2 separate regions of the Homo sapiens genome follow, and region 2 is linked to region 1. Evidence: fine-mapped expression QTL. Tissue or cell type: fibroblasts. Region 1 holds a variant in brackets; the other region holds the start of a gene. All regions are shown on one strand. Distances are between the middles of the regions.

The links. PIP is the estimated chance that this variant, and not a neighbour inherited with it, causes the effect.
Region 2: ZNF596 starts here. The variant in region 1 is fine-mapped to the expression of ZNF596 in fibroblasts (GTEx, PIP above 0.99).

What each region holds. Positions count from the first base shown.
Region 1 is chr8:254,716-258,964 of GRCh38, forward strand. It overlaps LOC101927566 (a long non-coding RNA gene), which reads right to left. Exons shown (of 5, transcript XR_245320.4): 5 at 3,552-3,599. Among named protein-coding and RNA genes, the nearest start is that of ZNF596, 24 kb to the left of the region's middle. The variant G/C (reference allele first, on the strand shown) is at 2,314.
Region 2 is chr8:230,036-234,284 of GRCh38, forward strand. It overlaps ZNF596 (zinc finger protein 596), which reads left to right and starts at 2,421. Exons shown (of 6, transcript NM_001042416.3): 1 at 2,421-2,659. It also overlaps the pseudogene RPL23AP53. RefSeq lists a silencer at 2,188-2,287 and an enhancer at 2,308-2,627.

The sequences.
Region 1 (4,249 bases):
ACCTCATGTAAATGACAAGTTGATGGGTGCAGCAAACCAACATGGCACGTGTATACCTGTGTAAAAACCTGCAGGTTGTGCACGTGTACCCTAGAACTTAAAGCATAATTTTTAAAAAGTGGATTATGAGCTTCAAATGGGCAGTTGGATTTTGAACCTAAATGCCACAGACAGCAACGGTTGGTAGAGAGGTGGGCTCAAAAATGGAAGGGAGGGACTGTGGAAGGGAGAAATGGAAGAGGTAAACAGTGCTGCCCAAGGGGAGACCTCAGAGGCCCTGACCTGCTGGGTAACCTATCCCGTAGCAGAGACACTGAAAAAAATATTCACGTGGCCAATTGCCTACCACTGTAGGTGGCTCTCCATTATGCCAGGGGCCTGGGAATTCCCATTTCCTTGGACCAAGAGTGGCTTGAGCAAGCTAGTTGGAAGACAGCATAAAGGAAGGGTTAGCAGCTTGCTATTAGGAAAATACTTCTAACTTATAGGGCAGAAAAGGGCAAGACCAATACTCCCCTAGGGAGAGGGCTATAACTCATATATCCCTCAGAATCCTAGAGGGAATGTCAACACAAATACTCCAGATCATATGGGGGGTGGCCAGAATACCAATGTTGAAAACTCAGAAGGCCCAAGTTTCAGCCAACAAGGGTCCCTTCACCAAATCCTGAAAACCCTGGGGCACCCAGAATGCGGCCAACAGTCAATCCAAGACCAAATTGGGGTCAGCAAACAACATGACTCTAGCATCCCGAAGTAAAAACAGTGGGGATCTCTCACAACCAAGTATCCTGCCTTAATCGTCCCCAAACAATTAACAGAAAGGTAAAACCAAACATAAGACTGCACACATTTTAGGACTGAAAATAAAATAACTAATGGAACAACACAATGGAGTCCGAAGAGAAAGTACTCAGGGAAGGGGTGACAAGGACATGCTCTAGCCAAAGACGTTTATTTCATTTCCTAGTTCTCCTGATACTATGGCGATGGGGGCATAAGGGACACTCACCTGTCCACCAGAGCACATATGGTGCTGACTGATTTTCCCCATGGGACCCAGGTGAAGATCTCGCCAGGATACCTCAGCTTGGGTGGACTTAACTGCCACAAAGGGTGGGTCCTGCACAGGGGGGGCCTGTAACCCACTGGTCGGCCAGTCAGACAGGTGGGTGTCACATAAGGTGGTGACACTATGGCTGCCCTGCCAGTAGGCTCAGCTGCCGCAGTGGGAGGGGCCTGCACTGTGTCAGTAACCCACCAGGCTGCAAATTTTCTGAACTTTTATACTGTGCTTCCCTTATAAAATTGAATGCCTTTAACACCACCCAAGTCACATCTTGAATGATATACTGCTCAGAAATTTCTTCTGCCAGATACCCTAAATCATCCCTCTCAAGTTCAAAGTTCCACATATCTCTAGGGCGGGGGCAAAATACTGGCAGTCTCTTTGATAAAACATAACAAAAGCCACCTTTGCTCCAGTTCCCAACAAGTTCCTCATCTCCATCTGAGACCACCTCAGCCTGGATTTCATTGTCCATATCATTATCCGCATTTTGGTTAAAGCCATTCATCAAGTCTCTAGGAAGTTCCAAACTTTCTCATATTTTCTTGTCTTCTTCTGAGCCCTCCAAACTGTTAGAACCTCTGCCTGTTACCGAGTTCCAAAGTCGCTTCCACATTTTCGGCTATTTTTTCAGCACCATCCCACTCTACTGGTACCAATTTATAATATTAGTCTATTTTCACCCTGCTGATAAATACATACCCGAGGATGGGCAATTTACAAAAAAAAGGAGGTTAAATGGACTTATAGTTTCACCTTGCTGGGGAGGCCTCACAATCATGGCAGAAGGCAAGGATGAGCAAGTCACATCTTAGGTGGATGGCATCAGGCAAAGACAGAGCTGTGCAGAGAAGCTCCTCCTTATAATATCATCAGATCTCATGAGACTTATTCACTATCACAAGAACAGCACGGGAAAGACTTGCCTCTATTATTCAATTACCTCTCACCTGGTCCCTCCCACAACACCAACCATGCTTGGCTAAGTTTTTAGTTCTAGTTTCATAGAGATGGGGTCTCACTATGTTTCAGGCTGATGTCAAACTCCTGGGTAAAGAGACCCTCCAACCTCAGCCTCCCAAAGTGCTGAGATTACAGGCGTGAGCCACCAAAGCTGGCCCGTTTTTCTTGATATATCAAAATTATTCCATACAGTCAGATAACTTTTCTTTTCTTTTCTCTTCTTTTTTTTTTGAGACGGGGTCTCGGTCTGTCGCCCAGGCTGGAGTGCAGTGGCGCGATCT[G/C]GGCTCACTGCAAGCTCCGCCTCCCGGGTTCACACCATTCTCCTGCCTCAGCCTCTCGAGTAGCTGGGACTACAGGAGCCCGCCACCACGCCCGGCTAATTTTTTGTATTTTTAGTGGAGACCGGGTTTCACCATGTTAGCCAGGATGGTCTCGATCTCCTGACCTTGTGATCCACCCGCCTCGGCCTCCCAAAGTGCTGGGATTACAGGCGCGAGCCACCGCGCCCAGCCAGTAACTTTTCATGTGGTTACTAACAGCCATGGATTTCCCTGTCCAAGGTACCAGTTTTTCGGTTGCATTTCTCTATATACTCATAGCCGTGGACACTGTCTACCTGTCTGATGAAATTCAAGTAACCTTTTCATTAGGTTTAACTTCCAAGAAATCTAAATGGGTTTCTTATAAACAAAAGCAATCACACTATAGGAAATTTTTCTTTACCTTTCTCACAACTAGCCTAAAAGACAAAAATAAAGATTGTACATGTTATCAAGGCAATTCCTTCCTTGTCTTAATTGGGTTTTAGATTAGTTAGGAAAAGAGCTATAAAAGGGTTAATGTTTTTACATCTATGTAACCTTCTGTATTGCTATTATTTAACAGTGACCCCTGATTCTGTTTGATTGAGTGTTTTGAGTCTTCTGACATCTTTGGCAGGTTTCTTCAAGATTAAAAACCTATATTAAGTCTTTTTGGCCTAAAACTAACTTCGGGATTTTGAAGGTTGACCCCTGGAAACCCTCAAAAATATTGCCTCTTACCTTATAGAGATTAAATGGTTAGACTTATCTGGTAAAATATATGGGCGACATTTTACCACACAGGGCACAAAGGATATCAAGTAATAAGTGATGGAAGATCTTTCAGTTACACTTATAGGTATGTTATTGATATAAATGTTCCTGACATAAATGTTCCAAAAATCATATATATTGATGAAAATCTGTTGTCAGCCATACTTTTGTTTTGTTAAATATCTTCTAAAGTTATATTCATATAAATATGTTATAAATGTAAGTATTCTAAGATTATATACAACTTATAAAGATCTCAGGGACCTGATGCAAAGCTGTAAGACATGATTCTGGTTGTTATAAAATGCTACATATAATAAATATAACCAAATTTTCTTATGAATTGGGAACTTTTGTCAGATTTTAACCGTGGTTAGGATTAGCACAGTGGCTCATACCTGTAATCCCAGGACTTCGGGAGGTTGAGGTGGGAGGATCTCTTGAGCCCAGGAGTTCCAGGCCAGCCTGGGCAACATAGTGCGACCATGTCTCTACAACAGAAAACAAAGTTAGCTGAATGTGGTGGCATGTGCCTGTGGTACCAGGTACTCAGGAGGCTGAGATGGGAGGATGGCTTGAGACCAGGAGGTCAAGGCTGCACTGAGCCATGATTGTGCCACTGCACTCCAGTCTCAAAAAGATTAAAAAACAAAATTTATAACAGTATTACTGTTCCCTCAAAAGCTACTCCTACAGGAGTGGCACAAAGGATATCAGGAAAAAAAAAACCCTCTTAAATGCTATTCCCATTGTCTTCCCACAGAAAATTGCCTGGTCCATTATCGAGTCATGAAAACAAACAAAAAGGATAAACCAGTTCCTTATTACAGAGCTGGACTAAAATCTTATATATAAAACCATTCTAGGCTTAAAATACATAATGAAACAACTGAAATGCCTTACAGCCTTTTAAATGAATAAACTCTTAACAGAGCTTGGAGACCAGATTAAAAAACATAAGATTGGATAGAAAGTCATTGATATGACCCAATTGGTCACTACGAGTAAGCGCTTTGAAAGACTTTTAGAATCATAAAAAATGCTAAAAGAAAGAATAAACAGGCTAATAAACTAATATCTTTACAAGTACAAAAGCTACAGGAACAGACCTCCTTATATCTGTTATAACTCAAAACTGATA
Region 2 (4,249 bases), 25 kb before region 1:
GCTTTTAAAAAGTTAAATCTGGGCAGGGTGCAGTGGTCACATCTGTAATCCCAGCACTTTGGAAGGCCAAGGCGGGTGGATCACTTGAGATCAGGAGTTGAAGACCAGCTTGGGCAAATAGCAAGACCCTTATGTCTACAAAAAATATATATATATATTAGATGGCATGCTTGCACATACCTGTAGTCCCAGCTACCCAGGAGGCTGAAGCGGGAGGATTGCTTGAGCCCAGGAGTTCGAGGCTGCAATGAGCCAGCCATAATCGCACCACTGCACTCCAGCCTGGGCGACAGAGTGAGACCCTGTCTCTCTCTCTCTGTCACACACACACACACGTTAAATTTGTTGGATTATATATTTCGGGGGTTGAGCACTTTTCGTTATAAAATATTTATGATTGTGGGAACAAGTTAATAAAGACATGAAAGTTATTTAAATGTCCCAGAACTTTAAGAACAAAAAGCATTCTTAGTTTAAAAATAAGTTTTACTTTAAAGGTAACAGTACACACATAAATTGTTGTTAAAATCGACAGTAACAAAGAGAAGTAACAATACTAATAGCCTGTCACAAACTGATTCTTAATAACCTATATAAACAAACATTAAGCCCGGGCGCCGGGTGGCTCATGCCTGTTATCCCAGCACTTTGGGAAGCCGAGGCAGGCAGATCACTTGAGGCCAGGAGTTCCAGACCAGCCTGACCAACATGGTGAAGCCCAGTCTCTACCAAAAACACAAAAAATTAGCCGGGTATATTGGCACGCACCTGTAATCCCAGCTACTTGGGAGACTGAGGCAGGAGAATCCTTGAACCCAGGAAGCAGAGGTCGCAGTGAGGCGAGACCATGCCATTGTGACAGGAGAGAAACTCTGTCTCAAAAAAAAATTATATGTTTACAACAGGTGCATTTCTCCTCTTGCTTTCTGAGGACGCCCTGCTATGTAGCTGAGTAGTCACTAATAAACTATCTTAACTTCACTATACTCTGTGACTTGCCAAAAGGTCTTTCCCATGTGAAATCCAAAAACCTGTTCTTGGGGTCTAGGACAAGACCCATTTTATAATGACAAAACTATACAAATTCTAGAGGGAAACATAGAAAGAAAGCTATGTGACCTTGCGTTTGGCCATGAGTTTTAACACGACACTATCAGAGGCATTTGAACCCCTCCTCTATATGAACTCCAGGGTGGTTTATGTTCCATTGGCTAAGAGAAAGTTTTCTTCAAAAATGTGACATGATTTGAGGTCAAACATTAATATCAAGTAAACTCAAAAGATTGAGAAGCTAGCATTAGTTCTGGGAAAACCAGAAGTGTGCCTTTTTTGGAAATAATCATTGGTAGCACAAACTTAAGAATCTCCAAAGGAAATAAAAATGAGTTATTAACTTACAGTTTTCACCAATTAAGATATAAATGAAGCTAACGAAATCCGGAAATACAATTTCACTGTTTTTAATGTTCATTAAAAAAAAATCCTTATCAAATAGCCCCAGTAAGTCACCAATTAAGTCTTTACTACTTAAAAGCAAAATCCACCTATGTCCTGAACAGTATCCACTTTACGAGCCTCATTATATGTACGAGATAAAATTCAGAAATAAATAAATATACATGTATACGTATACAAATATATTTCAAATTAAAAAATACTTTTAGATAGTGGTATGTATTACATTTAGAAATTAATAACGAAGTAAATTATGGGATGTCATCCACGCCTGTCCCAAAGGTACCGAATTTATAAATCATCTCAGGTGCGGAGCAGGACAGGTTGAAAATAGGAATGACATGAACCCGCGCGGAACAGCTGCCGGCGCGGTGTCCAGGGCGGCACCCCGCCCGGTCCCGGCCCCTCCAGCCCTGGGCCCGACCCCTACTACGCCTCTGCCTCGACGCGAACGCGGAGCCCGAGCGCGCGTCACGCCGTGTGGGGCCGAAGAGGCTGCTACCCAGAGGCGGAGTGCGGGCTCGCGAGGGTCCCCACCCGACTCTCGCTCCCGCCAGCACCTACGGACTCGCGTCCCCGCCGCGCGCCGACTCGGGAGCAGCACCGCCCCCGGCACAGGAGCCTCACGCGCCTCTTACCTAACAGGAAGTTGGGTGGAAGCAGCGCGGACCCACGGCACACCGAACGCACTCCAACAGAACCCGACGCAGACACGCGCTTTCAACCGGCGGAGACACTGGCAGGGCCAGAAACGCGCGCAGCGGGGGCGGGAGGTCGGTAAGCTCCCCGCCCCTGCCCGAGACCCCGCCCCGGCCCGGCCCCGCCTTTTTCTCTGCCTCCCCTCCCTGCACGTACGGGCCCCGCCCCTCGCGCGACGTTTTTTGTTGACCCGGAAACGGATTCTCCGGAGCCGAGGTCCGCTCGGGTGAGTGCCCTCCGCTTTTTGTGGCCAAACCCAGCCACGCAGTTCCCTTCCTGCGGCGTCCTCCACACCCGGGGTCTGCTGGTCTCCGCGGATGTCACAGGCTCGGCAACCGCCCTCCTGTCGGCGGGGAGTCCCGCGACGCCCGGAAATGCTCCGAAGCCTGTCGCCCAGCTGCCAGATCTGCGTCTGTGTCCGGTTCCGTCACTGAGGTCGCCCCTGTCCGGCCCTTCCACCCTAGTTCTCTTCACCGTCCGCCCATCCTATCGCGCGCGGCCTCAGGTCCCGATTCGGCATGTGGCTTGTCTTCCATCGTCCCCACCCTCGCCCCTCTTGGCCCCTCAGGGCAGCCCTGGGATTCGGCAGACGCCAGTCCTCCCTGAGATGCTTCCCCATCCTTCCCTCCGCCAGGCCCTACGTCTCCGCAAACCCCACGCTTCGGGGTGGCCGCCTCAGACAGGACCCTGAGTCCGAGACTGGGGTAGGGGACCTGCCCGATCCTGTAACAACCCTCGTGCTTCTGCACAATCGCCTCCCACTAGCGGTGACTGTTGGGTGTTTACCTTCCCGGTGTCCCACTGAGAAGCGGGCTCTTCCTTGGCAGGGGCTTCTTCATTGCCTCGCTGTGGATGTCGAGGTGGGGCAGGAGAGTGAGGAGAAAACAGAGGAGGGAGGTAGAGCCAACGAGCGAGAAAAGGGGAGGGAAGTTTAGATGGGAAGTGGATGGGTCTGAGGAATTTGAACAAACACCGACAATGAAGGAGAGTGACCTGAGCAAGTAGTAGTGGGGTAAATGGAAATAGACAAAATGGGAATCAGCAGAGATATGGAGGACAGAATACAATGAGGAGGCCTTGACCGTCAGTAGCAGAGAGGGCAGCAGAAGCCTAATTCCCAAATTCTTTAGATGGTTTTCTGATTTCCAAATTAGTTTCCCTTTTAAATTTATTGTGTCAGGTTCAGCTTATGAGGCCTCAATACTTTTCAGTCTTAATTGTATATTGAAAATACTTTTTGTTTACTAAATGCTTTTTACATTAATTCAGTGTGCACTTCGTAAGGATAATGATGATTTGAGTTAGTTTAGTATTCAACAGCTTCCTCTATTCCTTTATATGATCTCTGTATTTAATGGCTGTGGCATAAAGTTTCCAACTAAGTTTAAGTATCAAGTTTTCTTTGTGCTGTTTTCTGCAAATATTGAAGGATGACCTGGATTGTCCTAGAACTTTGTTCCAACAGATTACATGTGTTCATAATGAATAGACTGCTCAAAGATATTTCCAAAGCTCACCTTTTATGTTTTTCAGTTCCAATAATTACATCTTTTTAAGGTTTATATTTTTTGATGACTTAATGTGATGTTCTGGAGAAGACAAATGCTTTTAATCAATATGATTAAAACCGTGAAAGACAAATCGCTGTTACTTAAGAGTGTGACATATGATCTGAAATCTTTAGGGGGCAGGGATGTTAAGGGAAAACTGCCACTATCGTATTAAGGTCATGCCATTCCTGTGAAGCTGGTGCTTGTTACTCTCTACTGGCTTCTGTTCACCTTTCCACCGGCCCCAAGACACACACATAGTGACACAAGGCAGTGGACAGGGAAAGAGCAAGACTTTATAAAGTAAGCACACAACAAAGGTATCTTTCTAATGAGGAGGAGGTGTTGGTTCTGGGAAGGAAGCTTGGGATTTGGGTATTCAGGATCCAGAAGTGAGAGAGCCTGGGAAGTTCAGGAACCAGAGAAAGAAAAAGCCTTGCCCATTCTCACCCATGACACTGTGCTCAGCAGGTACTAGCAGACTTCAGGCTCTGTGACTAAAAGGGGTCAGACCAGTTGATATACCCACAGCTGCCATGTAAGGA